2 linked regions of the Homo sapiens genome follow. The protein of the gene in region 1 interacts with the protein of each later gene in a biochemical or structural test. Each region holds a gene or a part of one and is shown on either strand. Other genes may lie near its edges. The genes, in order: STX3 and TBC1D30.

The links.
Region 2: the proteins of STX3 (region 1) and TBC1D30 form a complex in vitro, tested with the Homo sapiens proteins (one study listed by BioGRID).

Annotation. Positions count from the first base shown.
Region 1 is NC_000011.10:59,781,799-59,797,966, reverse strand, and holds part of STX3 (syntaxin-3), read right to left. Parts: intron 10,931-16,168; coding exon 10,831-10,930; intron 9,095-10,830; coding exon 9,020-9,094; intron 7,449-9,019; coding exon 7,381-7,448; intron 5,861-7,380; coding exon 5,752-5,860; intron 4,869-5,751; coding exon 4,795-4,868; intron 4,588-4,794; coding exon 4,453-4,587; intron 2,596-4,452; coding exon 2,485-2,595; intron 2,366-2,484; coding exon of another isoform or gene 2,255-2,365; intron 685-2,254; coding exon 601-684; 3' UTR 571-600; intron 1-570. UniProt on the Homo sapiens protein: Potentially involved in docking of synaptic vesicles at presynaptic active zones. Apical receptor involved in membrane fusion of apical vesicles.
Region 2 is NC_000012.12:64,815,573-64,832,368, reverse strand, and holds the start of TBC1D30 (TBC1 domain family member 30), read right to left. Parts: upstream 7,723-16,796; 5' UTR 7,490-7,722; coding exon 7,336-7,489; intron 4,535-7,335; coding exon 4,473-4,534; intron 3,926-4,472; coding exon 3,860-3,925; intron 1,993-3,859; coding exon 1,867-1,992; intron 251-1,866; coding exon 65-250; intron 1-64. UniProt on the Homo sapiens protein: May act as a GTPase-activating protein for Rab family protein(s).

The sequences.
Region 1 (16,168 bases):
GGATGTTGTAAGGATTCAATGATATGTGTATAAGGTGTTTAGTACATTGTCTGGTACAACACAACACTCAAAAGTGTGTTAACTATCATCATTTAAGACCCAACCACTCAGCAACAGAGAAAACTCTGCAGATCCAAATCCCAATTCAGAGTTTCATTTACATTGAAAAGGATACAGAAAGTAAAGCCCAACATCCATGAAAATCAGTAAGAATTCAGAAGACAGACTCCAGATCCAAGACAGAGATGTACCCAACTTAGAAGCATGCTTCCTGAGTAAGGGGAGTCACCTGGGGTGCTCAGGTATGCTGGGAGAAGTGGTAATACGACAAGACAGAGATTGGGGACAGAATCTACAGGATAAGAACAAACGGAGAGCTCATCCACGTACTGCAGCCAGAAACCAATAGAACTATAAGGAGATAAAGAATCCACAGGCTACTGAAAGTTTTAGAAAGCTCAGTGTGTCCAAGGACAATCATAGGGGGAAAGAAGAGGAATTTGAAATCCCAAGCTAATTTCCTCTTGAGGAGCCAAATCCAGAGTCCCCAAGAACCACTCGTTTACTTACATTTCAGTGCAGCAGCCTCTTAGGCCACTCTTAATTCAGCCCAACGGAAAGTCCAATAATCAATGCTAAAATGCCCAGCAACACAACTACTAGCACAATGATAATTATCAATTTCTGGAGAGAGGAATAAGACAAAAACAAATCATTATTACAAACAACCAAAAAAATAACAACTCATCCAAAACCTAACCCCTGTCACCTCTACATAGAAAATATCTTACCAGTCTGAGTAAGAGGCCTACATCTCTACATACAGACATCCTTCTAGGATACTTCATTTATTTTTAAGACAGGGTTTTTCTCTATCACTCAGGCTAGAGTGCAGTGGCATGATCATGGCTCACTGCAGCCTCGACCTCCTGGGCTCAAGTGATCCTCCTGCCTCAGCCTCCTGAGTACATAGGACTACAGGCATGCACCACCATGCTCAGCTCATTTTCTTTATTTTTGTAGAGACAGGATCTTCCCATGTTCCCCAGTCTGGTCTCAAATTCCTGGGCTCAAGCAATCCTCTCACCTCGGCCTCCCAAAGTTCTGGGATTATAGGTGTGAACCACCACACCCAGCCTAGGACAGTTTAAATTTCTTAAATTACTTCTAGGCTAGGAATGCCAGCAGAGGGAAATATGGGGCCTCTCTCAGCTCTCAGCTCACACTGCAGTTCTGTATATGTGGACAGATAGAATCAGAGCCACTATCGTGGGGTCTCTAAGGAGCAGTTGGCCAAGATAAAAAGTCACTGACTGATTTTTTCCATTTTAAGAGGGAATGTAAAGGCATTTTTGATAGAGTTCTAATTTCCTACTTTTGCCCATACTCCTACCTGTCAGACCCAGTACACTGCCTGGATATCAGAAAATGCCACCCAGCCTGGATTCACCATGTAAAATAACTTCCCAGTCCCCTAAATCCCTGCATAAGCAATAGGTAAAGTTGGATGAAAAACAAAGAACTAAACAACAACAATATCAGAGCCCAAGAGAACCAGTCAAAGGAGAGAAGTCTAAAAAGCAGACGCCACCAGAGCTGGATAACCACAGTCGTGAGCACAGAAGCCTAGAAGTCCTTAAGCGGCAGGGGCACCAGAGGGTGGGCAAATACAGTGGTGTGGTAGAAACAGAATGATTGGGATCTGAACTTGAATCCCAGTGCCTCTACTTACTAGGTGGCCTGAAGCCAGTTACTGAGCCCCTGACCCTCAACTGTCTCATTTATAAAGTAGAAATAACAGGTGCTCCATCAGATATGACATAATGTATAGATAGCAGTTAGCATGAGCTAGGTACAAGGTAGAGAAAAAGAGAAGGGAGGCGGAGCTTGGGCGCCTGGAGTGGAAGACAATGAAGAGAAGGTTTCTGAACAGAGGAGTCAAGTGTAACATCTGAAAGCCTCATGAGCTAAGTCCAGGAGAAGATTAGCAGCACCACCTGGGCCATGCATCCATCCTACAGAACTGCCTTTCAAGTGTGGGTTTTTGGGGAGATAGCTTGTGAGCCAGATCCATGCAAGGCACACCTGGGAAGGAAGGGCAGGCAGCTTGTCTCTAGGAAAAGCTGAGGGAGGGGTTGATGAGGCTACGACAGGGAGGGAGGCATGGGCTCAAGAACACAGGTAGGGGTGGCCAGGGAGAAGAGATACTAGTAAGACAGCTGAGACGAAGGACAGTTGAGATGAAGGTGCTCACCCTCCGGGCTTCACTCTGATACTTGACAGCCTTTTTGGTATCTGCCACGGCCCGCTCCACAAAGCCCACTGACTGGTCCATGTTGTTCTCAATACGGTCAATCATGGATCCCTTTCCCCAGATGCAAGAGGTGGTGGCAGCAGAAACAGAGACAGGGAGAGGGAAGAGAAAGAGCGAGACACAGCAAACAAAATGGACTCTCTTCTCTGAAGGCCACAGGAGAGTCTCACCTTCCGGGCCTGACTCTGGTATTTCACAGCTTTTTTCGTTTCATCTCGTGCCTTCTCCACGTGGTCCACTGTGTGCATGACATTCAACTCTATGTTATCTAACATCTCACCCTGCAAAGAACAGACTCTGATCACACCAAGTAAACGTCTCAGGTCAGTCCTAGCCAATGCGGGGAAGGGATTCTCTTTCTTACAATCTTCAGTGGCAAGAAGAGCATCCACAAACCTTGATGCATGGCCTTCCATAGGACACCCATTCACAGTCCTTGGTGGTGGGGTGGCAGTCACTTGTTCAAGAAACATTCAGTGAATTTTACTACTTCTCTGTGACCAGCACTCCACCAGGCATCCAGAACATACTATCTAGATACCTAGTAACTACCTATAAATATACTCTGAGATATCCCCAGACAACCTTTGTTATTTTTTTTACACTTAAGCACATGGAGAGGAACCAAAATAAGGATATCTCATTGTTATTAGGACATCACTAGGATGCTGGCCTCTTCCTGGTCATTCAGACCTGAATCAACATCATTCAGCCTGAATTGAGTATATTCACTAACTGCAGAAGAGTGCCTGGCACACAGTAGGTGCTCAATAACTATCTGAGGTGGGGAACATTTGCTTTCTCTAAGTTATTTCCAGGCCCTTTAACTGACAGACATTGGGTTTACCCAAGCTATTTGGTTATATTTTCCCTTCCAGACAGTGGTCTCTTGATAAGCTTCCCAACCATTTCCTAGCAATCACTTCCTGACAGGGAAGTTTGATCATTCCAATTAATCTTAGGCATTTTAGGAATTCTCCTCAACTACCCAACCCAACTCTATCACTTTATGGCAGTCTGTAAACAGAACAAGGCACTTACCACCACTTGAATCTCAAGCCAGTTCCTCGGCAAGGCAGTGTGGGGGAAAAGAAGAGGTGGGATGGAGGGACTTGAGAAATGGTCTCAGAGGCCAGTAGGGAATGGGGGGAAAGCATCCAGGCCCTCGGCAGGGAACCAATGTCAAAAACTAGTCAAGCTGTGCTCGAGCTTCAACTAGGTTGTGCAGTCTGCCTACTATGGAAGCAATTTTCTCTCCTATCCCAAGTGTCAGAGCAGCTGGAAGTTCATGGCAACAGTGCACAGCACCATGACCCTGTGGCACACTTAACTGTCCCATAAGAACTAGGAACCATCTAACTATGCGAAACTAGCGCCCTATGCAGGCAATCCAGAATTCTATCCCGAGCAAGCATGCCTGGGACAAAGTAAGCTGTCAAACTAGCACCACGAGTGTTTCGAGTCTTTCTGTCAATGCTATTTTGCTACTCCTTCATTCATGTTGTTGTCTGCTCTGTGCCTTAGCAAAAGGTGCCAAAATTAAAAAAAAATACAAACAGAAAAAAAATGGAAAAAAATAAAAATTTATGTTAAACCTGAGTCTTCCCTGTGAACTAGAGAAAAGATCACATTTTCAATGTCATCAGTGAACTAGTCCATATCAGGAGGCTGTTTTAAAACGTCACCATTAGGAGCCCGGATCTCTGATTTTTAAGAAAGAAAAAAAGACAAATCCTGGGAGGATTGCTTGATCCTGGGAGGTCAAGCTGCAGTGAGCTGTGATCACGCCACTGCACTCCAGCCTGTGCAACAGAGCAATACTCCATCTTAAAAAAAAAAAAAAAATCAAAAATCCAGGAAAACTGGGTACTTGACAGAACACATCAAACCCTGTATCAACTAGCAACGACTGCAAGGCCAAAGGGACAGGCAAGAATGACAAGGTTAAGATCACCCAAAGTGTCAACATTCAATTTGAATGCACACTTTCCCATGGGATTCTGTTTCTCCTTTATGCAAATTCCCAATGGTTCTCCCACCCTACCTCACTGGCTTCCAGTATTCCCTTTCTCCCTGTTCTCAGTAGACCCTGAGCTTTCCTCTCCTCCCTCCCCACGCTGGGACTCACTGCCACTTACCTGATTCTCCACCAGCATGGCGATGTCCATAAACATGTCGTGAAGCTCCTTGATGCTGCTCTCCAGCCTCACAATGTCCTTGTGTCGTCCCTCAATCTCACTGAGGGCTTGCTTGGAAATCTGTGAGTCAATGATCTACAACAGGCCACACACAGACTGTTAGCTACCCCTGCAAGAAAGGCTGCCCCTGCCACAGCCCTCATGCACGCTCCTGGGGAGCTCCTTGCCTCCCTGAACTCCCTGCACCTGCAGCTCCCCCTCCACCTGCTGGACTGCATGAGCTCCGCAGTGGCCTCCCTGCTCACGAGAGGGATGTGCTATCCGAGCACACAGGGCACTCACCCCAGAAGTGAAGATGGCCGGGTTGCCACTCTCCAACATCTCCTCCAGCTCCTCATCGGTTGTCTTTTTGCCAGCTTTGTAACAAAAGAAGTAGAGCGTCAAATATAAGATCACGGTGAAACACCATCTGATAAGGACCCTGAAAATTAGGAACGTGACTTCCCTATAAAGACCGTGGCCTTTACAACACTCCCCCAATTGCCTCCTGACTCATCTTATTTCTGCCCTAATCCAAGCCATCCTTAACACTATCAGCAGTTACCTTCCTAAAGCACTTATCTCATTACATTGCTTCCCAGCTCAGAACATTTCCTTGCCCCATTCACTACACTATGGTGTCCAAGGCCCTCATAACATGCTAGTTCATGGGCAAGCCCTCCCTCAATCCATCCTAACCTTATGCTACTCCAGACACACCCTTTCTCCAGACCCTAGACAACCTGCCACTCCTAAACACACTTGCTCTTTCTTGATTATGTTCATACCATTCCTCTCATCCAAAGCACCTTCCACTCCACGGGGCCCTGCCTTCCACATTACTACATTCCTAAAGGGTATGGCTTTATTTATTTCTCTAATCCTCCCAGCAACTTACACCATACTTTTATCCTCCCAGCAACTTACACCACACTTTTTATTTCTTAAATGTGCTTTGCTGTCAAACAGACAGCAAAATGATACAATGAGTCCACAAGAGAGCAACTGTTTGGCAAGCATTTCCCCTCTATATAGGAGACAATGCTGGACCCCATACAATAAAATTACTTGGGCCTGATAAACACGGTGTCACCTTTCAGCCTACAGCACAGCATTCGGGATGTGCCAGTGGTGCAGGAGCTGCCCTAGACTTAGGCACAAAATGTGCTTCCTGCTTGCTCCACCAGGGCCTCAAAACTTGGGATGGACAACCAGGTGGCAGGAAAGGTGGAGGGCACACGCCAAACCTCAAGTACATACTAATTTCGAGCTGCCGCTGGATTCGCCCTTTGCTGCGTTCTCGGAAGTCCACTTGAGCTTCATTGTATTTGGTCATCACCTCCACAAACTTCCGAGAAAGGACAGAGTGCTGTGGGATGATGTAAAATGCAGTCAGGCCCCAGTGGTTCTGTAACTGTTATAGAACCCCTCCCCACCCCCACATAGCCATCTACAATAGCACTGGACTTGGAATCAAAAAACCAGGTGTCAAACCAAGTTTTTTGTTTCCTAGCTTTGTGCCACTGGGAGAGTCCACTGCCCTTTCCAGAGCATGGTTTCAGCACCAGTTTACTGAAACCGGTTTACTGCTGACCTCACGTGGTAATTGCGAGGCCAGAGGTCATCTCTAAATCTCTGAGCCCTACATCCACATGGACTAGTAGCATTTTTCTGGCACAACACTTGGCTTGCATTCTAAAACTGTCAGATTCCCTTCCCACATGTCATACTTACCAAAGATCCTTGAGTTCTTACGCTAAACTCATCTCCCCAACTCTTCTTGCTTATAAGTAGATGCATTATCTCAACAGCCCTGCATGCCTAAGCTAAAACCTTCCTAATAATTTTTATTCCTTGCTCACCTCTCAGCATCAAGCCCTACTTACTGGTTTCTCCTTTGGAAAATCGCCAATATATATACTTTTTCCAAACCCACTACCACCATACAAATTTAGACCAAAACCCTTGCAAAAACCTAACTAGGGACCTTCCAGTTTCCTGCTTCTTTCCCACTTGTAAACGGCTTTCAAATGGCTACCATAATAATCCTCCTAATATACTGCCGCCTGAAGCAAATGCCTGTAAGTTATAACATCAGATCCAAATTCCCCAGACTGGTCCTCAAAGACCTCTAGAATGTGGCACTACATTATCTACTAAAAATTATGTGTCCACTATCCCACAGCAAACTTTTTTCTACAGAAAGCCTATTGTCTTCACGTCTGCCCCTTACGTCTACCCACCACCACTACCAACCACTGCTGCCAACACACACATATGTGCGTGCCTCACTCCTGCCCCTGTGCCTCTCAGAGAGGGGAAACTACTTCCTGAGGCTGCTCATGTTGGCACTCTGGCCCAGCCTCCTCTGGCTACCCCCCATTCTTCCTGAGATCTTTTGATGCTGAGAGCACCATGCATGTGTCTTCTTATCGCATCCTCCTGCTGGGTCGCATCCTCCTGCTGGGTCTTAGGTAATAGCTTTCCATGCCGCTTCAATGGCATGCCAGTTCTTTAAGGACAAGGATCCTATCTTTGATGACCCCTAAAGTGCCTAGCTCCAAACTGGACAACCAATGACTAACAATTGTTAGAAGACATTAATTTCCTCTCCTGTAAAACAAGAAGGCACGCTAAATCCTAAGCTGTGCTCTAGGAAGCCTGAAAAGCTCTTCAGGGGCCTCCTTAGAGAAGGAGAGTACAGGAGAGGAGCCAAAAGGGCTGGACTCTGGCCCTGACCCCTATTTCAACCTGGAGAGTTCTCCTTTACCAGGTCTTCAAATTGAGTTTCAAAATAAGGATTGTATTAAAAAAAAAAAATCCCTCCACAGTTAAGGGAAAACAATAAGAGATTGGACTAGCTAATCATGAGACCAGGAAAAGTCTTACCTGGGATTTCCGAATCCGAAGGTCTGCCGATGACCTGACCTCATCTTCTTCAATATGCTTCTCCATGCCTAAAGAGGAGAGGAAGGTTATACTTGCAACCTATCTCCGCCTCCAAGAAACATGCTATTCAGTGAAACTTCCTCACTCATTCCCACACATCCAGCCCACGGAGATGTAACAGGTAGGTGTCACCTCAAAAGGTCAGCTCCCAGATGAGCCACAGGACGTGCATTCCACAGCCTTTACGATGACCAGGTTTTGGCATAACAGTTAACAGCATGGGTTCTGGTCACCATGAGACTTAGGCTTGAATCCTTGCCCTGGCACTTACTGGGTGTGACTTTGAAAAAGCCACTTAACCCCTCTTAATGTACCTGTTCTCTCATCTGTAAAACAGAATAACAGTCCCTCCCTCACAATACTAATGTGAAGATTAAATGAGAAGACACATAAAGTGCCTAGCACAATGGCAGGTGCACTATCACTGTTATTACTGGAATCTGCTACTAATGACTCCTCCAGTTAAAATAGTTATTGCAATATACTTGGGGGGAAGAAATGGTAAATTGAGCTGAGCAATAATGCTTTCTCTTCTGATCAATAGCATGCATGCACCAAATACACTGGGCAAGAATGCAGGCTCTAGCAACAGAACTAAGTAAACCTTCTAGGCTCTGGAAGAACTGAATCTATGACAGTAGCTTCATTGAACTATACTCTCCCAAATGGGGGGAGTGAGGGTATGGGAAGGTGGTATGCCTAGCCCACCAAGAAATATCTGTAGACTGAATGATATCTCTTGCATTTATATATCTCTAAAATGACTATTCAAATGTATGTAGGTGGCCGGGCATTGTGGCTCAAACTTGGAATCCCAGCGATTTGGGAGGCCCAGGCAGGTGGATCACTTGAGGCCAGAAAAGTTCGAGACCAGCCTGGCCAACATGGCGAAACCTCGTCTCTACTAAAAATACAAAAATTGACTGAGCGTGGTGGTGCATGCCTGTAATCCCAACAACTTGGGAGGCTGAGGGATGAGAATCACTTGAACCCAAGAAGCAGAGATTGCAGTGAGCCAAAATTGAGCCACTGCCTTCTGGCCTGGGCAACAGAGCAAGATTCTGTCTTAAAAAAAAAAAAAAAAGTATGTAGTTGCCAGGGAAATAAGACCAATAAGAGAAAAGTTGATGGGCCAGGTGCGTCCCAGTTACTCAGGAGGCTGAGGCAGGAGAATCACCTGAACCCAGGAGGTAGAGGTTGCAATAAGCCGAGATCACACCACTGCACTCCAGCCTGGGGGACAGAGTGAGACTCCGTCTCAAAAAAAAAAAAAGAGAGACAAGTTGAAAGACTAAGTTAAAGGACCAAGTCACAAAACTACTCAGCAGCTGAAAGCACATTTTAATTCTCATCTCCTAGCTTCAATTCTGGACTCTTTCCAGTACAGTCAGGATTTAAGAAAAGGTAAATTTCTGGGGCTACAATGGATCATTGCGGGGACAGAGCCCAAACCACAAGCAAAGATGGACCAAGTGGTGTCACTTCCATCAAGAGGAGTTTCAGTTCGGAAAGCTGGACCCTAGGGGAGCTGAGATAGATGGTGGTGGGGACGGCCTTGTTTTCTTTGTTCCCTTCTTACTCTTCAGTTTGTTCCGGACGTTGTTGGCCCTTTTCTTAATCTCAGTCGTGAGCTGCTCTAGGTCATCCTTGGTTTCTGGGTAAATAAAGGCAGGCAGAATCCGTTAGAAAGGAGAGGACTGATTCCTTTGTGAACTACAGCAATCATCATCAGAGGAGGGGAGCTTTATCGGGCATCCACTGCCCAGAATGGTATTTATCCCTACGCACTCCCCAGCATCTGTCATTAGAATCACAGAGTGCTTATTTTTTTAAAGGCATTTTCCAGGCACCCCATCTCAGTCTACAGAATAAAAATACCCAGGGTTGGAACCACAAAATCAGCTCTTTCAACCCTCCTGAGTAATCCTGCAGCACATAAAATTGTGGAAACTCTGCTTTTAGAGGAAAGAGCCTACCACGGGAGCTTCGGTTGAGAAGGTTCTAGGGAGCTTATGGGGAAAATAGATTTCAACCAAGGCTAATCAACTTAAAATGAGGCAAATATTTATGACATACCTACTACACACATCCTAGGTTGTATGGAGCAAACTAAGTGTTAGCTATAACCATTCATTCAAAAGCCATCCTTCAGCCCCTACTACAACTTTGGAACAGAGCTAGAAACTATGGAATCAGAAAGAAGATCTAGATTTTTCCTGCAAGGTGTTAGAGTCTAGTGGGAGACAAAGGAGAAATAAATCAGCAGCTCTAATATGCAGCGTGGAGTAAGGTATGAGTTCTGGTCAAGGTGTGCACAGCCTGGAGGGATCTGGAAAAGCCTCTAAAGATGGAGATGAGCAGGACTGAGTCTCAAGGACTGTGAGTTGGCCAGGTAGAGAAAGAGACTAAAAGCAGGAATTCCACGAGAAGAAACAGTAAGTAAAGGGTATGAGTGAACAGGAAATGCCTGGGGAACCAGACAGAGTTGCTCTGGCTGAAGCGTGGGAAGCAGGAGGAGGATGGCAGGAGACAGGCTGGCTGGGAAGGCAGGAATGTGATCAAGACAATGCCCATATGCTCTGCTAAAGTGTTCCCACTTCAGTCTTTAGGTAAGAGGGCCCATGGGAAAAATGAAAGAGTGGAATGACAGTGTCAGGCTTGTTCCCTGTTCTTAAGGAACCAAAAATATAGCCCTAAACCACCCGTGTCCAAACCGTGGAACGCACGGATTTTTTTGCTTATCTGTAGTGGCAGATATCAGGAAAATTATGCACAAACCTTTCTTTCAGCGCTTCAGCTATCGTTAGTGTTAGTGTATTTTATGTATGGCCCAAGACAATTCTTCTTCCAATGTGGCCCAGGGAAGCCAAAAGGTTGGACACCCATGCAAACAATTAGGGGAGAAAAAACGTTTGCCTAGGTGGTGGTAACAAACAGGAGTTTAGGGATAGAAGGAATTTCTGTGAACTCGAACCATTTTGGAACACCTCATGGAAAGAAAAAATGGACTTGATCTGGTAGGATTCAGAAAGAGGGCTAGGAAAAGCAGTTCAGGCTGGGGAAATAGTACACGCAGAGGCTCAGAGGAGGGACAGGGCACAGGGTATGTAAGCAGCAGTGGGAATCGTCGCCAGTCAGGAAGAGGGACTAGCTGGGAAACAGGAAAGTCTAGCTAAATGGTTGGAGTGGGACCATGAAGACAAAACCTTGACTGTGGCCAGGCAGTAGGAGCTCAGGTAAGGTAAAGGGGAGGGAAATGAGATAATATGTACACTAGTGCCCTGTAACTTGTACACTTCCCTACTGCTCACGAAGGGCAAGAAAACAAGGCTGGCTCAGCTCCAAGGAAAGGGTGATTGTTGGATGACTCAGTTCTAAGTAAACACTCACTTGGCTCTGGAATCGGTGCAGAGAGAATGATACTGTAGAGTTTCTTAGCCTCCTCTACATGTTCTGAGATCTTGTCAATGTTAAGCCGAGTTTCCTCAATCTATAATCAGAAAGACAATAACCTTCATCATCAAAGAGGAAGTACAGGTCCATGGCTGAGATAAACGTTTGGCAGAGCTGCTGGTGAAAGCTGCCCATCTTCTGGGTTTGTGGAAGAAGATAATGACTTAAAGTCCTCAGCTGCCCAGTGAGTACCCTTTCCATGGTCAGATAAAGTAATCTCAACAGAACAGTTGTTAAAAATCCATACTTGTTGCTCCCTAAGAGTAATACATTCACCCACTTTGGATGAAAGGATTCAGGCCAAAGTCAAGAAGAGCTAAGAAAAACCATGAAGAATGATCAGAGGGGGAGAATCAGCAGACCTTAGCAGGCAGAGCCTTAAAGCCCAAAAAGTGAGAACAGAAAAGAGTGAGGATGAAGGAGAGGGGAAAAAGGAAGGAAGGAAAGAAAGAAGTGAAAGGAAAAGAACAAACCTAGAGAGTGAAAAACACAGAATGAGAGGAAGAGAAAGACAGAAACAGATAGGCCAGGCGCGGTGGTTCATGCCTGTAATCCCAGCACTTTGGGAGGCCGAGGCAGATGGATCATGAGGTCAGGAGATCAAGACCATCCTGGCTAACACAGTGAAACCCCGTCTCTACTAAAAAATGCAAAAAAAAAAAAAAAATTAGCCTGGTGTGATGGTGGGCGCCTGTAGTACCAGCTACTCGGGAGGCTGAGGCAGGAGAATGGCGTGAACCCGGGAGGTGGAGCTTGCAGTGAGCCGAGTTCGCACCACTGCACTCCAGCCTGGACGACACAGCGAGACTGCCTCAAAAAAAAAAAAAAAAGAAAGAAAGAAACAGATAAAGAAAACAAGGAGAGAAAAAGAGAGATACTAGGCAATGAAGGTCTCAGGAGACAGCCCAAGCTTCTCTAGGACACATATGTTCTTGTACTAACTGATTTCCTCAGACGATCAGGACCCAGTAGCTCGAGCCACAGCCCATTTCTGCATATTTCTAAGGCTCCTGATTGTACAAGGCTGTGAGTATCATAAAATATTTCCAGCAGCACTTCATTCCCAGGTAGAACGCCACTGTCAGACATTCCTGTGTGAGCTTTGACTGCAGCCTCAGCTCCCCGCTTCATAGGTGCCCATGCCACTGGTACCACAGCCCTGCTGCAGTGGAAGCCTATGTACAGGGAGCAGGGCAGGAAGGAGAGACCTCAGCACCTGTAGGGTCTATCTGCTTCACTCTCAAAGTGAAGGGCACATCAACATTGCAACAATTGACAAACAGAAATCTTGTAAAATGTCATACAGTAGGATCCTAACATCTGAGATGCAACAAAAATAAAACTCAATGCATATGCAGCTTCCAGCATCCCTCTTTTCCTGTGGACACTTCACCTTTTTCAAAACCTGATTATAGCTCTTCATATTCAATAGAAAATAGGAGAGGCCAGGCACAATGGCTCACACCTGTAATCCCAGCACTTTGAGAGGCCGAGGCAGGCAGATTACTTGAGCCCAGGAGTTCAAGATCAGCCTGGGTAACATGGCAAAACCCCGTCGCTACAAAAAATACAAAAATCAGCCAGGCATCGTGGCATGCCCCTGTAGTCCCAGCTACTCAGGGGGCTAAAACGGAGGATCCCTTGAGCCTGGGAGGTTGAAGCCACAGTGAGCCATGATCATGCCACTGCATTTCCCGCCTGAGCAACGGAGTGAGACTCTGTCTCAAAAACAAACAAAAAAAAAGGGAAAAGAAAGAAAATAGGAGAAACAATACTTGAGCTCTCTAGCCCTCAAATCAGTACTTTTGCCACTGGAGCACAGGATTTTCCCCTCTATAAATATATTGGCTTAGATGTGCCAGAGTTTAAGAGTAGAGCTGCTTGCTGAAAGATGTAGAATAAAATTACAATGTAATAATATCATGGGAGTGTAAACATACATACAGGTAACTACCCAAATATTTGTGAAGCATTTTAAGAGTTTACAAAGCAACCTATAAGACTGGACCAGTACCATTATTCAAATGAGGAAACAAGTTTAAAGAAATTATAGGTCACATAGCTAGTGGTAGGGACAGCATGCAAATAGTGCCCTCCACACTCCAACTGGGAAGCTTTTTTCCATTAGATTGAAGAGTTAATTTTTTTAATTATCTGTACTGTTTAGCAGCATTCCAGCCCTACCCAGCTATAAAAAAGGCCTCTGTTACAACCTATGATACTCACTGATACAGTTTGGCTCTGTGTCCCGACCCAAATCTCATCTTGTAGCTCCCATAATCCCCATGTGTTGTGGGAGGGACCCAGTGGGAGACAATCGAATCATGGGAGTGGGTCTTTCCTGTGCTGTTCTCATGATAGTAAGTCTCACAAGATCTGATGGTTTTAAAAACAGGAGTTTCCCTGCACAAGCTCTCTTTTTGCCTGCTGCCATCCATGTAAGACGTGACTTGCTCCTCCTTGACCTCTGCCATGACCGTGAGGCTTTCCCAGCCACGTGGAACTGAAAGTCCATTAAACCTCTTTCTTTTGTAAATTGCCCAGTCTCAGGTATGTGTTTATCAGCACCATGAAAACAAACTAATACACTCACAGACTCTAGGGGTGTGACCACCTCAGAATCTACTGGCCCCTCTTAGAACTCATGTCATTGCATCACACCATGGTTTCCAGTTCCACCACATAACTGTCTTGCCAAAGCAATTACACTGTTTTACAGGATTGAGGGAGGGAAAAAGGCTTTCTAGAAGAAAACACACTAAACATTTTTAAATGAGTTTATCAAATTTTAAATTTTAACAAGTCATGAAGGACTTAGATTTTGCATGTTCAACAGATTGGTTGTCACAGAAATTCTCTCATCTGGAAAATTATTTTATAAACTGAAGAGTATTCTGACCCAAAGTTCAGTCAATGGTAGAAGCACAGGAAGAGATAGGAAGTTTCTAGGATGAGACTGGCAGGCCTCAGGCTCAGTGTCACTACAGGCATTTGGAGACTGGATGGCTGATACTCACCCTGCCCTATGCACAGGAGAACTGGTCCTGGGTGCTCTATCCGCAACCTGCCTACGGGACTTCCCAGGCCCAGGGAGCACTCCATTCCACCCCACCCATCCTCCACCCACTGTAGCTGGTCTCTTTCCTCTGACCGCATCAACCTTTCTATTTGGAGGCATTTCAGGGAATCTGATTTCACAGCAATTTAGTCAGTTCACCAAATAATCACAGGACCTTTTTGGGACCTCAGGATGGGCAAGTGGCCAACCATAGAGCTTTCTTTTTTTGAACTTCGTGGCTTTGCTTTTTCTTAGAAGTACTGGTTTTCCTCAAAGGTGACTTTCTGAGTATTTAATGGTGTGAAATGGCAGCTACATGTGGTTTCCTTTTGTGCATTTGCCACATAATCAAAAAATCATGAGGCAATTGCAGGGAAGGGGTATAGGAAACTGACAAGTGCCCAATCTAAAAGTTTAAGGGCTATTGCATGTGTTTGTCTGGGGTTAAGTATACTGACATCTAAAATTACTCTGCATATTCATATATTTAAGAACTAAAATTGACTAAACATATTCTTGTATCAGAAATGATGCTATGCACTTCACAATACTTCTATGAGGCTACCATCATCATCTCCTTTTTATACATATGAGAATATCGAGTCTCAAAGAAGTAGAGAAATTTACTCCAGGTTATACTGCAGAAAGAGGCAAAACTGAGGTTTGAACTCAGGAATACTAAATCCTGTCTCCTGAACCAGGTAAACGCCTAAGGAAGGCTCCTATATCTTCTCTCCCAAGTTCATGCATATTCAGCTCACATCAGGTTAATGTGCATGTTCAATCCACTGTTTTGGGAGAATGGATCAGTTGCCTTTCACAGAGATCATCCTTATTTCTCTGTCTTCTCACCACCGCTCCCTATAGAAAGCTTTTTACAAAATGAGCCCTCAAGAAGTATTGCTGACCAAGTGTTGACATCTAAAAGTGTTTTTTTTTAAATCACCATGTAAAATTTACAGCTAATATATTCCCAGTGCCTTCTCATTGCACATTGTTTATTAATTTTTTTTTTTTGAGACAAAGCCTTGCTCTGTTGCCCAGGCTAGAGTGCAGTGGCATGATCTTGGCTCACTGCAACCTCCACCTCCCGGGTTCAAGTGATTCTCCTGCCTCAGCCTCCCAAGTAGCTGGGATTACAGGCACCCGCCACCACACCAACCTTTTTTTTTTTTTTGTATTTTTAGTAGAGACAAGGTTTCACCATGTTGGCCAGGCTGGTCTCTAACTCCTGAGCTCAAGTGATCCGCCCACCTCGGCCTCCCAAAGTGCTAGGATTACAGGTATGAGCCACCAGGCCCAGCCTAAAATGTACTTTTCAATGCTTTGTTAGTAATACGGGAATCCAGATAATATAGGATTTAAGGAATTAAGATCAAACAGACCAGGTTCCAGTTTCTGCTCCATCTCTCTTAGCAGTTTTATGACCTTGAACGCACCCTGTAAGTGTCCCTAAGCACCAGTTCTCTCATCTGTGAAATGAGAATTATCACAACTCCCACTTTAGAGTTTTTGTGAAGATTAAATTAGACAATACATGCCAAATGTTTAACATAAAGTACATGTTCAATAAATGTTAGGTGATGACAATGATAAATACAAAAATGCCAGCAATTACTGCACATTTGTCATATGCCAGGTACTATGCAGTGCATTTACAGGCATGTCTCATTTAATCCTCATAGCAATCCTGTAAAAAAGTCTTAATAAAACAGTCTGACCTCATCAGTAGCCACCCAAGGAAATCTAAGGTCAACACCCAAGTCAATCACTCTACATGTTGGGCGTGGCCAAATATAATTACTATATTATACTAATAACTATAACTAAAAGGAAGGAGTTATTTTCGAGATCTGGATGGCCTCTTCCTTCTGGACCTAATTAGCCAGTGGAATCTAATTAAACAAGGAAAAGCAGAGAAAGTACTAGTTTGTGGAACTGGCAGGTTGCATGGGGTAAGATGGAAGGCTAAGCAAAAAAGCTCTGTTTATTCTCCCTAAGAATTAGTCTCGGCCTCTCCTAAACTCCCAGGTACCTTGTACCTCTAGTTGAGCATTAATTGCTGCATATTTACGTATTGAAAACTTATTGCGAGGTGACAAGAGCAATGTGATTTTAACTGTCAAATGATCCCTCCTTTTCACAATTTATACACCTTCACTTTCCCCAAAAAATGACAGAATCCCAAGCAGTCTTCATATTAGAGCTGCTCAGTCA
Region 2 (16,796 bases), on another chromosome or scaffold:
TTATGGTTCCAATTTCTCACTCTCAGAAGAATGTCCATGGCCTTTGTCAGAGCCTGCTACTCACTTTCAGGGCATCCCCTTCATTGCCTTCCATCACTTCCAGAATTAGTGCAGCCAGGATGTTAAAGCCTTGGCAGTACCCAACAGTTTTGTTCCATCGGGCATAGGCCAGCAGCACCCGCTTCAACACAACCCTGTCCTGCTCAGCCTCCTGGCCACAGTAAGAACTACAGCCTGTGCGGTGAAGGTCCTAAATGGAAGGGAAACAATATTTTCAAAAATAACTCCTAATATTCTTTCCAAAACAATACCTTTTTTTTTTGACTCAATAAACAGAGTCAAATCATCGACATAAAATTTTTTTAAAATGTGTATGTTTTTATACATATGAGCCAAAATGCATTTTTAGCTTTCTTTTTCATAATATTTTGTAATATGCTGTTTAAGAGAGATTTGCAAGGGGAATTTCAGTCAGGCAAATTTTCAACTTAAAACGTTTCCAGGATTACCACAAAAAGTAGCTCAGAATTAACAATAATTACAGTATAATTTCATGTAAATTGATTGTTTTAATAATATTTCTCAGGTAAAACAATAGTCATCACAATACATGTATGATTGAGGCTAACATTCTTCCTTTCTACAAATAAAGTATAATATTTAGCTATCAAAACTCTAAATAACATAAAGGAGTGAAATCAAAATAGCAAAAAATGTGATTATAGAGAGAAAAATCATTCTATTCAAATTATTTTATGAATGTATATAAGAAAGACAGAAATATTTGCTATGCTTTAATGAAGGCAATATCTATAATTTAATTACTAAGCAGGAACTACAATTTTCAAGAGCTGAAGTCATTAACTGACACAGCATTCACTTCAATGAGAAAACAAAAGATACTCTTAAAAGATGATTGTTACAAAAGGTGCATTGCCTTAATTCACCAGTTAGACAAAAAGGAAATATTTCAAATATGAGATACTTCATCTCTGCGAAACATATTCTAAAATTCCAAATATATAGCTTAAATGTGAATAATGCAAAGGCTTTTTAGTACACAATGTAAAATTGCATAACTTTTTTAGCATTTGTCTGAAACCAAGTTAGAACAGAAAGTAGCTCATTTTAGTTAGTACTTCCTCCTTAAAAAAAAACCTCCAAATATGCCAAAACATTAGCCATCTTGAGGTGGCCAAAATTTGGATGAAACAACTTTCCTTTTAAAACCCCAGCTGAGTATCACACTGTAATGTACTCATATAAAATCAAAAACCATGTGCTAGAGCCTTATGTAAGAGGATAATACTGGGATCAAACAGAATCAGTATCCTTGGCTTTTAGCACCAGGCTCTGTTCAACTGTAATAATCCAGGTAAGCGAGCCACAACTGCCTACACAGCTGGCTTGAACCCACAAGTATTTGGTTGGAAGTAGGCCCCACCTGTGAACCTGTCTTTAGAAATTGGCAGTTAAGAAACTATCAAAGACCCTAATAAGAACCAAATCATTCTCATATGAAATATACTTAACTAACTTTTTCAATCAGTGACTTTTATATAAAAATCCAGTTGGCATCATTGACCCATGACAAAGCGTCCTTCCTATAGTGTGAGGAAGATTAATAAGTTGAATGTGAATGAAAGCTCATTTGCAAATATTTTCTTCTTACCGGTAACATTTAAATTTATGCAGACAACACATTGTCAAGGTTCCCCATGAAAAAGCTAATGAAATGAGAAGGCAGAAAATATACAGACATTCAAACCAGAAGGTAGAGATCATTTGATCCTCTGTCCAAAAAGCAACTGGCTTTTAGAGTCTTTCTTCTATATTAGGATGACAGGCCAAGTTCAGGGGCATTACCTTGACTATCTGAATTCCCATGGAGTCATCATCAGGATTACTCCTTTCATTGAAAGTGAAGCGCATGGTTTTGTCCCAGTCAATGGCTATACTGTGCAAATAATGATCTGCCAAGGTCAACCAAACCTAAAATATTACATAGACAAAGGAGAATGCCAAAGTAGAATATATAACTTCACCTTTATTAGAAAGTAGTTATTGCATTCGACAAGAAAATGGGAAGTGTCCCTAGACCAGCTATCTATCGCTCATAAGTAGAAATCTACAAGAGTCTCACTGAAATGTTTGTTGCACTGATTTGCACCATTTAGGGCCTTTCATTTACTCTTTCAATAAATATTTGTTGAGTTCCCACTATGTGTCAAGCAGCAATCCAGGCATTAGGGATACTGTTAGAAAGACAAACCAAGAAGATTTTCAAATTGTATTTCTGTTCATTGAATAACCTGTATAATCTCATAAGCTTGTTTTACTTGGCTCTGTATTGCTCTCCATACTTAGGCAAGAGCCATCTGGTCACTCATGGTGAATGGGGCTTTTTTTCACCATGGAGTGGCCTCTGCCTTTAAACCATCCCTCTCACACACATACACAAAACTGACAGATGGGCTCCCATAATGAGTAAGTTTTTTAAAAGAGCCACTGGATATTTTTACCCTTTGATTATCTTATCCAGAAAATCTGTTTCTGAAAGTTATATTTCATAATGTCATTTTCATGACTATTTTGAGGAACCCTCAATTTTCAAATTCTAGAAATATAAAGATTAGGCTTATAAATTAATATCCTAAGTGTGTATTTCAAGTTTTGGTATTTAAACATGATTTAGCAGAAATAAACATTGATTTATATATCCAGCCAGACTTCTCTCCTAACCTCAGAAGCATATATCCAAATGCTCACTTGATACCTTCAAATTAGATATCTAATAGGCATGTCAACCTTAACAGATCCAAAACCAATCACTTATTCCACCACCTACCCTACCTACACGTACAGACACACACACACCTCACCTACTCCTCCCATCTGAGTAAACAGTAATTCTACCTCCCAATCACTCAGGCCAAAATCCTGAAGTCATCTTTGACATCCCTTTTATACCTTATATTCAGTCCAAGAGGAATTCATGTAAGCTCAGCCTTCAAAATACGTCTAGGATTTCCATCTCCACTACCACAACCCTGATGCATCTGTTGCCTGAGCTACTGCAAGTCTCCTACTGGTCTCCCTACTTCAGCCCTTGTCTCTCATATTCTCAAGTCAGTACCCAGAGTAGCCCGTTCATAATAAAAGTCAGATCATGTCACTCCCCTGCTCAAAACTTCCCAGTGCTTCCTAGCTCACACTGAGCAAAAGCCCAAGACCTATGATAGCCCACCAGGTTCTCCACGATCTGCCACCCCTCAACCCACCACATTACCTCTATGACCCCCTCACCTATTGCTTCCCCCTTTGTTCACTGTGCCCCAGCCCCGCCCCACCCCATCTTTGCTTGAATACAACCCAGATGCAAGATGCTCCCGCCTGAGGGCTGAGGGTGCTTGCGCTGGCTGTTCCCTCTGCCTGGAGTATCTCCTCCCAGGTACTTGCATGGCTGGCTTCTCACCTCCTTCAGGGGCCTACTCGAATGTCACCTTGCTATTTAAAATTCCACCTCCTTACCCCTTTTCTCCTAAACGCTCTTTATTTCTCTCTACACTTTATTTTTATCCATGGCACTTATTACCATCTGACATACTTTATATTTTATTCATTGTAAGCTCCATGAGGACAAAAAACTTTGGTCTGTTTTGTTTTTTTCCATTGCTATATCCCTAGAACCTAGAACATTACTTGGCACAGAATAATCAATAAATATTTATTGCATGAATGAATAATCAAGACAGGTTTTCAAGTAACTAAACCTAGAATATATTTTTTGACATTCCAGAGGCTCTAAAGAAGGGCAGTGATGATCCTTCTGTATTCTAGCCCTATGAGTCCTCCTTACCTTTCTCCTCCATTCCTTTGGTATTCCTGTGGATAGCCTGGCAACTGCCTTGAGAGCATCGTACCACTAGGAACAAAGAAGAAATCCCAGGAGGTGATCACAGTGACCTAGATAAGCACTTTGCAATCTTTTTCCCATCTTGACATTCATAGAATGTGCTGAAATTTGCACAGCACAATGGGGTAAACAGTCAAAGCTTCTTTCAGACAGAAGTGATCAGTCCATGGCTATTACTGTGCCACGTCCCACCCCTTGGGCACCCTTAACACATCTGTGACCCCTTTGCAGTACAAACAAAATGGTTGGGAAGCTCTGGTTAATAAGCCAAAATATATATTATGGGGTTCAGAATAAAAGACATTATGGTACAGGTGTGAAATTTATTCATTTTAAAATTTTTCACACATGTACCATTAATAGAAAGTGCAAAATTTGTCACTGCAAATATAAACCCAGGCCACTTGTAGCTCAAAAGCTACTTTAACTGAAATATTGTTGAAGTGACTCATCTTCACATTCATATCAAAGAATACGTTATTTCCACTTTGAGAATATATCTCAATGTGCCCTGTTGGTAACCCCAAAAGAAGAGTGTTTTCAAAATCAAAGTTACCTGCTGAAAACCATTTTGACCTAAAGATGGCTCAAGAGTGAATTTCAACTTGGTATCAACTCCTGAAAGAAAAATACATAAATAGATGTTATTTTTGGAGACTATAACAAGTTATATCAAAAATACTAGTAAAAGCTTGATTCTACTGAATCATCACAATTTTTTTTAAAGTATGTATCTTTACTAAATTTTAGTCAATTTTGCCAAAAGGTAAGCATATTGATTCTTAAAATAGGAAAATACCCTACAGCAATAGAAAGTGCCTTACTACATATGACGGTGGTTTACATAGATGCCTGGAGTACCACAAAAGCAAAAACAAAAACAAAAAATGACACCACAGGCTTGGAGTCATACAGTCCTCCATTCGACTTGGTTCCTAGACTGAAACAATTTATCTAACCTATCTCAGTCTCAATTCCTTTTCTTCTTTTTAAGAGATACAGTCTCAATATATCACCCAGGCTGAAGTATAGTGGCTATTCACAGGCACAATCATAGCACAATGCAGCCTTGGATTCCTGGGCTTAAGCAATCCTCCCACCTCAGCCTCCCAAATAGCTGGGATTATAGGCACGTGCTACCACGCACAGCTAATTTTTGTATTTTTTGTAGAACAGGGTTTCGTCATGTTGGTCAGGCTGATCTGAAACTCCTGATCTGAAGTGATCCACCTGCCTCAGCCTCCTAAAGTGCTAGGATTACAGACATGAGCCACGGCACCCGGCCCCATTTTTTAAAGGAATTATTGCCCAAAAGTTCAAGGACCAAGAAATGCCAAATACTATCAATAACATTAAGTTTTACAAATTTCAAAAGTCAAATGATGGCATTTTTGTTTCTAAGATTGTTGATTGTAGATTAGGTGTACTAAAAACTTCTCCACAACTTCCACTTCTTAGTGGTTGGTATGAATAGGAGCAATCTTCAGAATTTATGAAATAATAGTAAGTAATCAAGTAGACTGGTCTTTTAAAAAATATATATATACACGGAGTCAAGAAGCTGGAAAGAGATGTATCTGATTTTTGCAAGCCCATATCAGTATGCAGGTGTTCTTGGAACCCTGGAAGAGCGCTGTAAATTCCTGAGTTGGGTCCTAGGTTTCCAAAGTAAGCTGTGGCAGAGAATCCCAGGCATCCAATCAATGCCTTGATATTTCTTTTTAAAGCTTCAGGGCCATAACCATACTCTGCCTGGATAGATAAGTTTTTTTTTTCTCCGAAGGAATATTAAGTACCACATGGATCCGCCTCTCTCTGAGGTGGTTTAAACGAAGTCCTGCCCAAACATAGAACGGTGATAACAACGGCCACGGGAGTGTTTCCAGCCCAGCGCACGCTTTAAGGCACGCTGAAAACAAGTGAGGTTGCTGTCCGGACGCGAGGTGCTGAATGGAGGAGCGTATAATCATGACGTTTGCTTGATAACAAAGACCAGGAAATTCGGTCCCGCGCTGACTTATTCTTGCCACACTACAAGGATTCCCTGTATGTCTGACCAATATGCTCTTCTGACTTTTCCGGGGCACCTGCTGGGCATCATGCCGATTGCCTTCTCATAGTGAAACCCAGCAGGGGTTAGTTGGCCAAAACCACAACTATCCTCTCATGATCAAAAATGAGCAAGAGGATTTAACTGAAATTGATTCGCCGCCTGCATGCAAAAGCTTAAACCAGGTCACTTTCACCCCACTTTTCTTTTCTTCTAACAGAATACGGGCAGAGAGAAGGTTTATGTTTCATCTGATAATCACAGCTATTCCGGATTCAGAAATACAAAACACTTACTTTTAACGTGGGAAGGAGATTTAAAAGAAAAAAAAAAGAGGTAAAGGAAGATGGTGAATAAATACTACAGCCTCTGCAACTAGACACTTCCTAGGGGAGAACAACAAAGAAACCACGAGGTTGGGAAAGGCAGTGCCGCATCCCACCCTTTGGGACTCTGCAGCTCGATTCTCCTGCGGCTCTACAGCAGGTCCCCAAGGCGCTGGCGCTGGGGGGCGGGGGCCGGGGACCGTGAACCCGCCTGGAACGCAGCCGGTGCCACTCCAGGGAACAGGTGAGCGCCAAGCACCAGTGAGAGTACAGCCAACTCCCTCTGCAGCCACTCCTTGCCAGAAACCTCCGTGCCCAGGAGCCCGCGCTAGGGCCAGGCTCTTAAAATCCCGGGGAGGGATGCCGGGTGATGGAGCCGACACGGAGTTATGCAGTCTGGAGAAGCAGGGATGGGTAAACACAGGCTGACAGTGGGAAGGGCCTTGCCTAGCACGACCAGGCTCGTTCCTGGACCTCACCTATGAAAAGGATCTCCTGCTGCTCCCCACTCGCACTCACAAATTACAGGCTCCAGTTCGAGCTGACCCCGGCACTCACGCTGAAGGGACTCTTGGGAAAATAACACCCGATTTTGCCTTTGCAGCCACTGTCTTCCTCCTCCGACCTGCAGTGTCAAACCTGTGCCACTCTCCGCCCCCACACACCTCTCGCAAGGTCTGGCTTCCTGCGAGCCTGGAACACAATAGGTGGTGCGGCCTCTGAGGGCCCGGGCAGCCACCCGCACTTCCCCGCCACGCGGAGAAAGCCGAGCACACAGGCCGCAGGGTGGGGGTCCGCGGGGAGAGGGTGGAAGCAGCGGGTTCTCCGCGCCTGGGGTGGCCGCTGCCCCACCCAGGCCCCCGTCTGCCCTCTACCCTTCCAGACCAATCGCTCCCTGCAGGTGCCAACGCGGTGCCCCGCACCAGGTGGCACGCGGACTTTCCCCAGAGCTCCCCGGCCTAGACGGAGTCAGGCTAAGGCAGAAGCGCGGGCAGCCCCGGCGCTACTTTACAGCGCCCCATCTGCAGCCCTGGGGTCCTCACCCGGCTCCAGGGTGCACAGCAGCCGGGGCGCGGTCCGGGAAATGCAGCTGCGCTTCTTGAGCACATTGCTCAGGATGGTGCCCACGCCGCCGCCCTGCCGCTTCAGGCATCTCCCCCCGCGCCTCAGAGACCCGGTCAGCTTGTCCTGCCGCATCCGAGAGCGCCCCGGGCTCTGGCACGGCTACCGTCCGTCTCGGTCCCCGCTACCCCACTCGCTGAGCGGCTGAGCTCGCGGAGCTGGGTGAGTGTCTGCGGCTGACCGGCCCGTGGGAGCAGGGAGCGCACAGCCGGCTGGTGCTGGAGGGTCACGGGGACTTACGGGGCACCGCGGGAGCCGCCGAGCGCAGGGAAGCCAGCAGGCATCTGCAGTGCGGAGCCTGCAAGGCTGAGGCAGGAGATCGCTCGAGGCGGGGAGGGCGGGAGCGAGCGAGCGAGCGAGCGCGTGGGAGACGGAGGCGGCGTGCCCGCCCCCAATCCCGGCACCGCCGTGCGCAGGCGGGGCCGCCCCAGCTCCCCCGTGCCCAGAAGCGCCAGAGACAGGGAGCCAGTGGGCGCGTAACTGCGTTCGGGGACCAAAAGCAGAAACAGAGATGTCCGTGCTTCTCCCAAGATCTGGGAGGGAACAGAGGGAGCACCAAGGGGCGCCAGTCTCAGGGGCAGAACACCCGTAAGGGCAAGCATCCTCTCCCACTTCCGAGCAGTCTCAGAAGGGGCCATGACCCAACCGCAGGCGGCGAGGCACACGCTTCAGCCCGAATTGCGTTGAATTATTTCCTGGCAGATTAGAGAGGCGCGGAGAAAATGAAGGAAAAAAAAATTATTGTTTCTTTTAGAAAAATGGGCTTCCAGAAAAAAAGTGTTCTCTTTTCAAGCAGTATTAAAAAGTAATGTTCCTCATCTCTCCAGCCAGACTTCAGTAGTTCTGAACTATTGCCCATCATTATGGTTTAAAAAAAAAAAAGTCATTCTCAAACGGCAATATTCACCAATAGACTATTTACCATTAAAATGGATGAAAGAAAGGGTGTGGGGGGGGGATATAAAGATACTTGTGTTTGCTAATATTTATAAAAAGAAACACTAAATGGATAAACCAAAAACAAATTAGAAAACTTGTATAGGAGAAGGAACATCGTGGAGGAGACAAGAATGGAAAACTGAGTCCTCTCTTGATGTGCCTCCTGTAGTTTTGGCTCTGGAATAACACTATATTAATAATATTAACAAATTAAATTTTTAAAAAACCAGGATGATGGAACAGCATGCCTATAGTCCCAGCTACTTGGCAGGCTGAGGTGGGAAAATTGCTTAGCCCCAAGAGTTTGAGGCCAGCTTGGGCAACATAGCGAGACCCCATCTCTTAAAAAGACATAAAAATAAAAATAAAATTTGAAAATACATAAAATAGTCTGGGCACGGTGGCTCACACCTGTATTCCTAGCACTTTGGGAAGTCAAGGCAGGAGGATGTCTTGAAACTAGGAGTTCAAAGCTGCAGTGAGCTATGATTGCACCCCTGCATTCTAGCCTGAGCAACAGACCTAGTCCCTGACTATAAATGAATAAATTATTTTTAAATTGTAAAAGAAAACCCTAACAATTGAAAATTAATGGAAACAAATCAACCTAATGGACTATCCCACTTATAGCATAAGAACACAGAAAAAAATAATTCTCTCTTAAGTTGACATAGAACACAATATTATGACTGTACATCAACAGTTGTACATATTCCCAGAGCAAATAAAACTGCAAAGAAACCTTACATTTCATTCAGTAGTATTATTGTTATTAATAATATTCATATTTCTTAAATTCTTATATCCACTACAGGATAAAGCAAATAAATAAGTATGCTAACATCAAATGGAGCCAAGATGTTTTCAGTGTAATAGAAAATATGTGTATAACCAAAGTAATTAAGTTTTCTTTAAAATATTACAATTATATATTTATATGGGAAACACTAGTATGAACTCATTTTTTTTTCTTTTCAAAAAAATACATACATTCATTGAATAGGTTTAGAAGTAAGGACAACTCAGCAGCAATGAACACCCACAGCACCCAGGTTATGGTCTCTAAAAACCATTCCCCACTCAAAGGAACTAAGGCTCCTTTGAGGAGTGACTGATTCCAGGTTTGGGACAGAAAAAGTACAAGATGACCCTGAAACATTTTGATGAGCTCAAAAAGAAAGGAAATGTTTCACAATTAATGGGGTCAAGTCAAAAAGACACAAGAGTCACATAAATAGGCTCCTTCCTATTGGCCAAAGATGAAACAATTTGAACTTGAAAAACAATGGCTGAGCCTGGACAACATGGCAAACCCCCATCTCTACAAAAAAAAAAAAAAAGCTACAAAAATTAGCTGGGCATGATGGCACACACCTGTAGGCCCAGCTACTCAGGAGGCTGAGGTGGGAGGATCACCTGAGGCCAGGGAGGTCAAGGCTGCAATGAGCCATTATCGCACCACTGTACTCCAGCCTGGGTGATGGTGAGACCCTGCCTCAGAAGTAAAAACAAAAACAAAAAGCAATTAATTGCTGGGTCAGGTGCTGTGGCTCAGGTCTGTAATCCCAGTGCTTTGGGAGGCCAAGGTGGGACAATCACTTGAGGCCAGTAGTTCAAGACTAGTCTGGGCAAAATAGCAAGACCCTGTTTCTGCAAAAATAAAATAACTTAGCCAGGTGTGGTAGTGTATGCCTGTAGTCCTAGCTACTTGAGAGGCTGAGGCAGGAGGATCACTTGAACCCAGGAATTCAAGGTTACAGTGAGCTATGATTGGCCACTGCACTCCAGCCTGGGTGAGAGAGCAAGACCCTGTATCAAAAGAAAAAAAAATGGCTGCTATTGATTGAAAAAATATTGAATATTTTTAAATGCCTTCATAAAGATAGCCTAAACAAGCCAGAAAAAGAAGGCATTCCTATGACGCTTCCCAGAATTTGAGGACAATGTCAGAAATGGTGCAACCCTAAGAATGAGCTGTAAAAGAATCTATTAAAAATGAGATGAGCCATCTGCAAAAGTAAAGCAGGCTAATAAAGGACATGCAAGCTATTCAGTTGTAGCTGCCTGGCAGAGGTAAAGATGCTTTCAAAAGGGCAGTACTCTTTGAAAAGGCATCACTTTAGAAAATGAAGTCACTGTTTAAGCTGGTCATGACTAATTGCTTGGCTTAAATTTCCCAACCTTTTGCTGCGAGCTCCGGTACAGAAATTTATCCTCCATCAACCATCAACTTTTTACAGTTTTGGTACATGTTTGTATCCTTCAGCTTTGTATTAATTTTAATAAGACACTCATTGGCTGTTGCAGCCTATCTCAGTTGTACTGAGAGCCATAGGAAGAGGTCTGATGCTTCCCTTTGACCAGTTTTTTAGAGGGCACAGTATACCCTGGGGCTGAAGATGGTGATGAACACCCGAAGTCAAAGAGAGGGAACTGGCAGGAGAGGGAAAATCCAGCAGGACAAGTTGGTAACTGCATGCACAGTCTCGTCTTCCAGACCTCTCATATGCTCAAATCTTAGAGGGTTTTGTGTTCTATTTTAACAAGAGAGGCTATTCATGCTCGGTTTCCATCACTAGGCAAGCCAAGAGGACAAGCAATCAGCTCTGTTCTACAACACTGTCTCTGGAGTGGAGAGGAGGACGTCCTGCCCCTGGGGCTGTGACATATGCCACTCAGACCATCCAACTCCCTTTGGCTCTGACGTCATGCTCACCAAGCAAACTTTGGATTGTCATTTGATTTCCCATATAGACTCTGCTGCAGCACAGAGAATATACTGACCAGTTAATAGCAGTCAATACCCCTGAGTTCACTTACCAGTCAGTAACCTGAAGACACCAAATTTCCAGACTGCCAAAGCTGACATCTAGACTCTAGGCTGTCAACTCACCCATGTGTCATGACTGATAAAAAGACCTCTCTTTAGATTCTTCTTTACTTGTAATACTTTTCTTTACTAGTAGTGACAGAAGCTTGTTTGCTTGCAAAAGGAACATTCAATTTCACCTCTTTTAGATCTATTACGAGGAAAATCTAACTCTGTTTTTAAAATAAAATTTAAGAGTTTCTGCTATGATGGCAATAAACAGCAAAGGAATTAGATAATATTATTTTGTTTACATTGGAGAGGAAAGTCAGGACTGCCAACTTTTATAGCAAACAGATAATTACATGAGCACTAAAACACAATACTCTAAAAGCAGCGATGGCCCAAGCCTAGTATTATGTTGATTGTGTGACTCACAGTTTTTTATTTCATGTCTGGAATATTGTTTTACAAACGTGAAAGATGTCATCTAAAGTCAACTTACAGAGAACTCAAGCCAGCATGGACTTTGCCTGAGAATCTCAGGAGCCAGGCCAATTTACCATTATTCTTTACTAATCAAGCTTTACCAATCAAATAATAGTGAATTCACATTTGGGCAAATTATACACTGCCACAGTCTACAATGGTTATGACTTATGCTGAATTTAGGGGAAGGAAGGCTTAATGAACACTTCACATTGGATGAGATAATGTTATTTGGATTGCTAAAGAAAATGAAGGCTTTGAGGAAATGCCCCGAATGTCACAGAGCTAATAACCTGAGGACATCCCCCACAGATGTGAGCTCCCAGGCTGAAACAAAAAAAAGTATGGACCATTCGGCATACCCTGCATCTTCAGGCCTACATGCTGGGAATGAGGTTTCCTTGAGAGCGAACTTTTCCTTTAATGGGAGAAGGGGGAAGAAGTCAGTAAGAAAAGAAAGCCCAACACAAGGAATAAAAACTATGTCCCAAGGGGCTTCCAGAAGGGGAAGTGGGTCTGAGACCTGTGATTTCCTAATGCTGCTATTTTTTTTGTTTAACAGTAAAGTCTTAAAATAAAAAGGGCCTACGTGCTTATCTTCAGGGACTGACAATTACCAAGAGAAAAGGCCCTGGAAGCCTGCTATGAGGAGAGAGAGACCACAGGGAGCCAGCCTGCTCTGGGGAAGTGGGCCTGGAACTCATCTGTACAGCTGCGGAGTTCCCTGGCAGGTGCTGATATGCACACAAGCTGAGCATCAGAGATCTCATCAGACCACCAGATCTAGTGCTGTCTCCCATTCGGCAGGAGATGGGGACATTTTGCACCTGTGATAATAAAAAGAATGGAGGTCTGGTGGCATAAAAGCCACTCTTCCTCCTCTCTCCTCATCCCACAATTTTTGAACATGTGTAAACAGCTCCTGAATAGTGAAGTGGCGTCTGCTAACCAGACAAGATCTGTGGCCTTTTCTACAAGAAGTTAACACTTTCCTCAGACCTACTAAAGTAGGGACTTAACAAGTAGTTCCTTCAAGGCCGAGTGCAGTGGCTCATGCCTATAATCTCAGCACTTCGGGAGACTGACCAGCCTGGCCAACATGGTGAAACCCCATCTCTACTAAAAATACAAAAATTAGCTGGGTGTGGTGGCGCACACCTGTAATCCCAGCTACTTGGGAGGCTGAGGCAGGAGAATCGCTTGAACCTGGGAGGCGGAGCTTGCAGTGAGCCGAGATCATGCCACTGCACTGGCAGCCTGGGTGACAGAGCGAGACTCCATTTCAAAAAAAAAAAAAAAAAAAAAAAAAAAGTAGTTCCTTCAATTCATTATCCAAGACAGAGTCCACAGACTATGAGCATTGTAACAGTTTCCCCCTCATGACAGAGATGAAGGGGCAGGGCAGCAGGAGGAAATTGAGGGGGAAGAAAAAAACTACAATTATTTGACAGATCACATTACCTACATGGGACATTTTCTATTTATATGATTTTCTTTTCTTAGTCATAAAAATAACTTCTCTATTTAAATACAGGCATCCTTTAAGACAATCAGGTGTAGCTTTTGTATTTTGTTAATTTTTGAGAAAGGACTCTATCAAGCATGGAACAGAGAGGCTTTAAAATTCCAACACCAAATCACACTCAGAATGTCATACAGAAATGTACTTAAAACTCTGCTGCCAGATCCATGTAACCTTAGATGCATAACTAACCAAAGATTTTAGATCTCATCGTATTCTTCTTGTCGTGGTATTTCCTGTTAAGTATTTTCTTGCTTCAAAATGACCGAAACTGACTCACTACTACTTGAGCTAGATTGATATTGACCATATAAAGACACCTTTATATTTCTTTTATTCATTCACTTATTCATGAAAAAAATCATTAATCAGATGCTGTGGGAAAGGCACGGTACTAAGAACTATGAGAGAGAAAATTATGAACACAGTACATACGCTACCCTCAAAGAGTTTACAGTTGGCCAGGTGCAGTGGCTCACGCCTGTAATCCCAGCACTTTGGGAGGCTGAGGCGGGCAGATCACGAGGTCAGGAGATCAAGACCATCCTGGCCAACATGGTGAAACCCCGTCTCTACTAAAAACACAAATACTAGCTGGGCGTGGTGGCACGTGCGTGTAATCCCAGCTACTTGTGAGGCTGAGGCAGGAGAATCACTTGAACCAGGGAGGCAGAGGTTGAGTGAGCCAGGATTGCGCCACTGCATTCCAGCATTCCAGCCTGGCAACAGCACGAGACTGTCTAAAAAAAAAAAAATAGTTTACAGTTTACTGAGTGAGTAGTGACAAGGACACAAGGATTGTGTGAAAGGTCCTTTAAAATACTATGTGAATAATTGGAGAGATACCATTCTTGCTACATCTTAAGTATTATATATGTTGCAATGTTTTCCCAGAGCTCCATTTCATTGAGCTACTAAATTTCACCTGAAAACAGGCCAAGGACAAAGCTCATGTATGCTCTTCTTACAGTTGTGCTATTCAGCTCTTTAGTTCCACATCAGGAATAGAACTGGAAGACTCACACTCATCACTGCAGAAGATGAAATAACTGTTTAACCTGGTCATGATGAACCATTTAGCTGAGATTCCCCAACCTTACACCAAGCCATTCTAAGATTTTTTTTTTTTTTTTTTGGTAGAGTCTCACTCTGTTGCCCAGGCTGGAGTACAGTGGAGGGATGTCGGCTCACTGCAACCTCCACTTCCTGGGTTCAAGTGATTTCTGTGCCTCACCCTCTTGAGTAGCTGGGATTACAGGTGCATGCCACCATGCCCGGCTAATTTTTGTATTTTTAGTAGACATGGGGTTTCACCATGTTAGCCAGGCTGGTCTCGAACTCTTGACCTCAAATGACGCGCCTGCCTTGGCCTCCCAAAGTGCTGGGATTACAGGCATGAGCCATGTGCCAGGCCCAAAGATTCTTTTGACCCTGTTGAGGAGAGGTATGAAAGGAGAGGTTTCTCATATCTATTGAGGTAGATTTAACTTAGAAATGTGTCCCTAGACAGGAGAAGGGTGATGAGTTCGAATGTAATATGCTTGATTTTGGTGATGACAAGAGGGAAGTACCGGAAAAGGAGAGAGATTGGAATCAACAATAATGTTGGTTTGGCAGGTCTGGAAGCCTTCGCTCTCCAGGTTGAGTTCATTCAGAAGAAACAATGTAGAACGTGTGCTCCAATGAGGAGACGTGTGAAGAGACACAGGTCAGGTCATCACCCCTGGTGAGACCCTCCAGGAGGCAACGCAGCAGACAAAGGTTAGAATTCTGATGCCAGTACTTGCTTCCTCTATGTCCTTGAGCAAGTTACTTAATGTCTGGGTTTCAGTTTCCTCATCTTTAGAATAATGATATTTGAGTTACGGTGAGAATTAAATGACATAATGAAAGTCATGGCATAAAGCAGGCGCTCAATACTGTCCTTTGATTAGTGCTTGTTGTTGCTGCACTAGAGGCTAAAATGGCGCTGTGAGCAGTCATCCCAGAGGTCTATCCAGCACAGGACCCAGACTCTGACCCACAGGGTGAGTCTGACTGGCCAGGATACCCCACTGAGGTCTTCGCCGCATACTCCTCTAGTGCCCTCACTCACTTGGTAGAAACTGTGAAATTAGTTTTGTGTTTGCTCCAAAGGACTAAGTTAGAACTGCTAAGTGGGAGCTGTGGTGAGGCAGATGTCAGCAAAATTTCAGAATGCTCTGTTGGGCATGGTGGCTCACACCTGTAGTCCCAGCTACTTGGTGGACTGAGGCAGGAGGATCACTTGAGAGCCTAGGATTTCAAGGCTGCATTGTGCCCTGATCACACTACTGTACTCCAGCCTGGGTGACAGAGCAACACCCTGATAGAAGGAAGAAAAGCAAGAAAGAAGAAAGGCAGGAAGGGAGGGAGGAAGGGAGGGAGGGAGGGAAAGAAAAGAGAGAAGAGAAAGAAAGAGAAAAGAAAAGAAAGGAACAAAAGAATGCTGTGACTATAATATAACATCCAGCCTCAGGAGATCATAAATGTCCTCTGCTTTGGAGTTCTCAGGCAAAGGCTGCAAGCCCAGCAGTCGGGGATGCTGTGAAAGGACATTTAAAATGAGGTGAGGCCAGACTAGCAATACCAGTAGAGCAGCTTCCAACCCTAGAATTCTCTGAGACCAATTTAACTGATATTCAGACAGTCTTATTACTCTATTAGAATTCCTCAATCCAATATAAATGTTGGCCAACAGCAATGCTTGGACAATACAGTTTGAGTTGCTGTGTTTTCAGATAAACTGAAATTTAAACAAAGAAATCCTTTTGGTGTCAGTCCTCGTTAAGAATATTTCTACAAGGTATTACACTCTCTTGACTTAAAAAGAGTATTCTGGGCCTGGATGCCGGGGCTCATGCATGTAGTAATCCCAGCACTTTGGGAGGCCAAGGCAGGCAGATCACCTGAGGTCAGGAATTCGAGACCAGCCTGGCCAACATGGTGAAACCCCATCTCTACTAAAAATACAAAAATTAGCCAGGTGTGGTGGTGCATGCCTATAATCCCTGCTACTTGGAAGGCTGAGGCACAGGAATCGCTTGAACCCAGGAGACGGAGGTTGCAGTGAGCCAAGATTGCACCACTGCGCTCCAGCCTGGGCAACAGAGCGAGACTCCATCTCAAAAAAAAAAAAAAAGTATTCTGAACAAATCAAATTTTCATATATTTATTAAGAACCTTAGCCTGAGCAACATGACAAAACGCTGTCTCTACAAACACTACCAAAAAAATTTGGCCAGGCATGGTGGTACATGGCTATCGTACCAGCTACTGGGGCGGATCACCTGAGCCCAGGAGGTCGAGGTTGCAGTGAGCCATAATCACATCACCATACTACCAGCCTTGGTGACAGAGTAAGACTCTGTCTCAAAAAAGAAAAAAAAAAGAATCTTACATTATCTTTACATCGTTATTCTCATTGTTTAAGAGTTCAAGACAAGTATTGGAAGTTCACGTAATTAAGCTGAACCCAAGTCATCATCTGAAATATGAAAGTTTAAAAAATATATTTATGCATGATTGTATATGTGCATATAAAACTAAATGCTTTATGAGTTTTTTCATGAATTTATTTCCTTGTGATTTCTCTACGGATATAT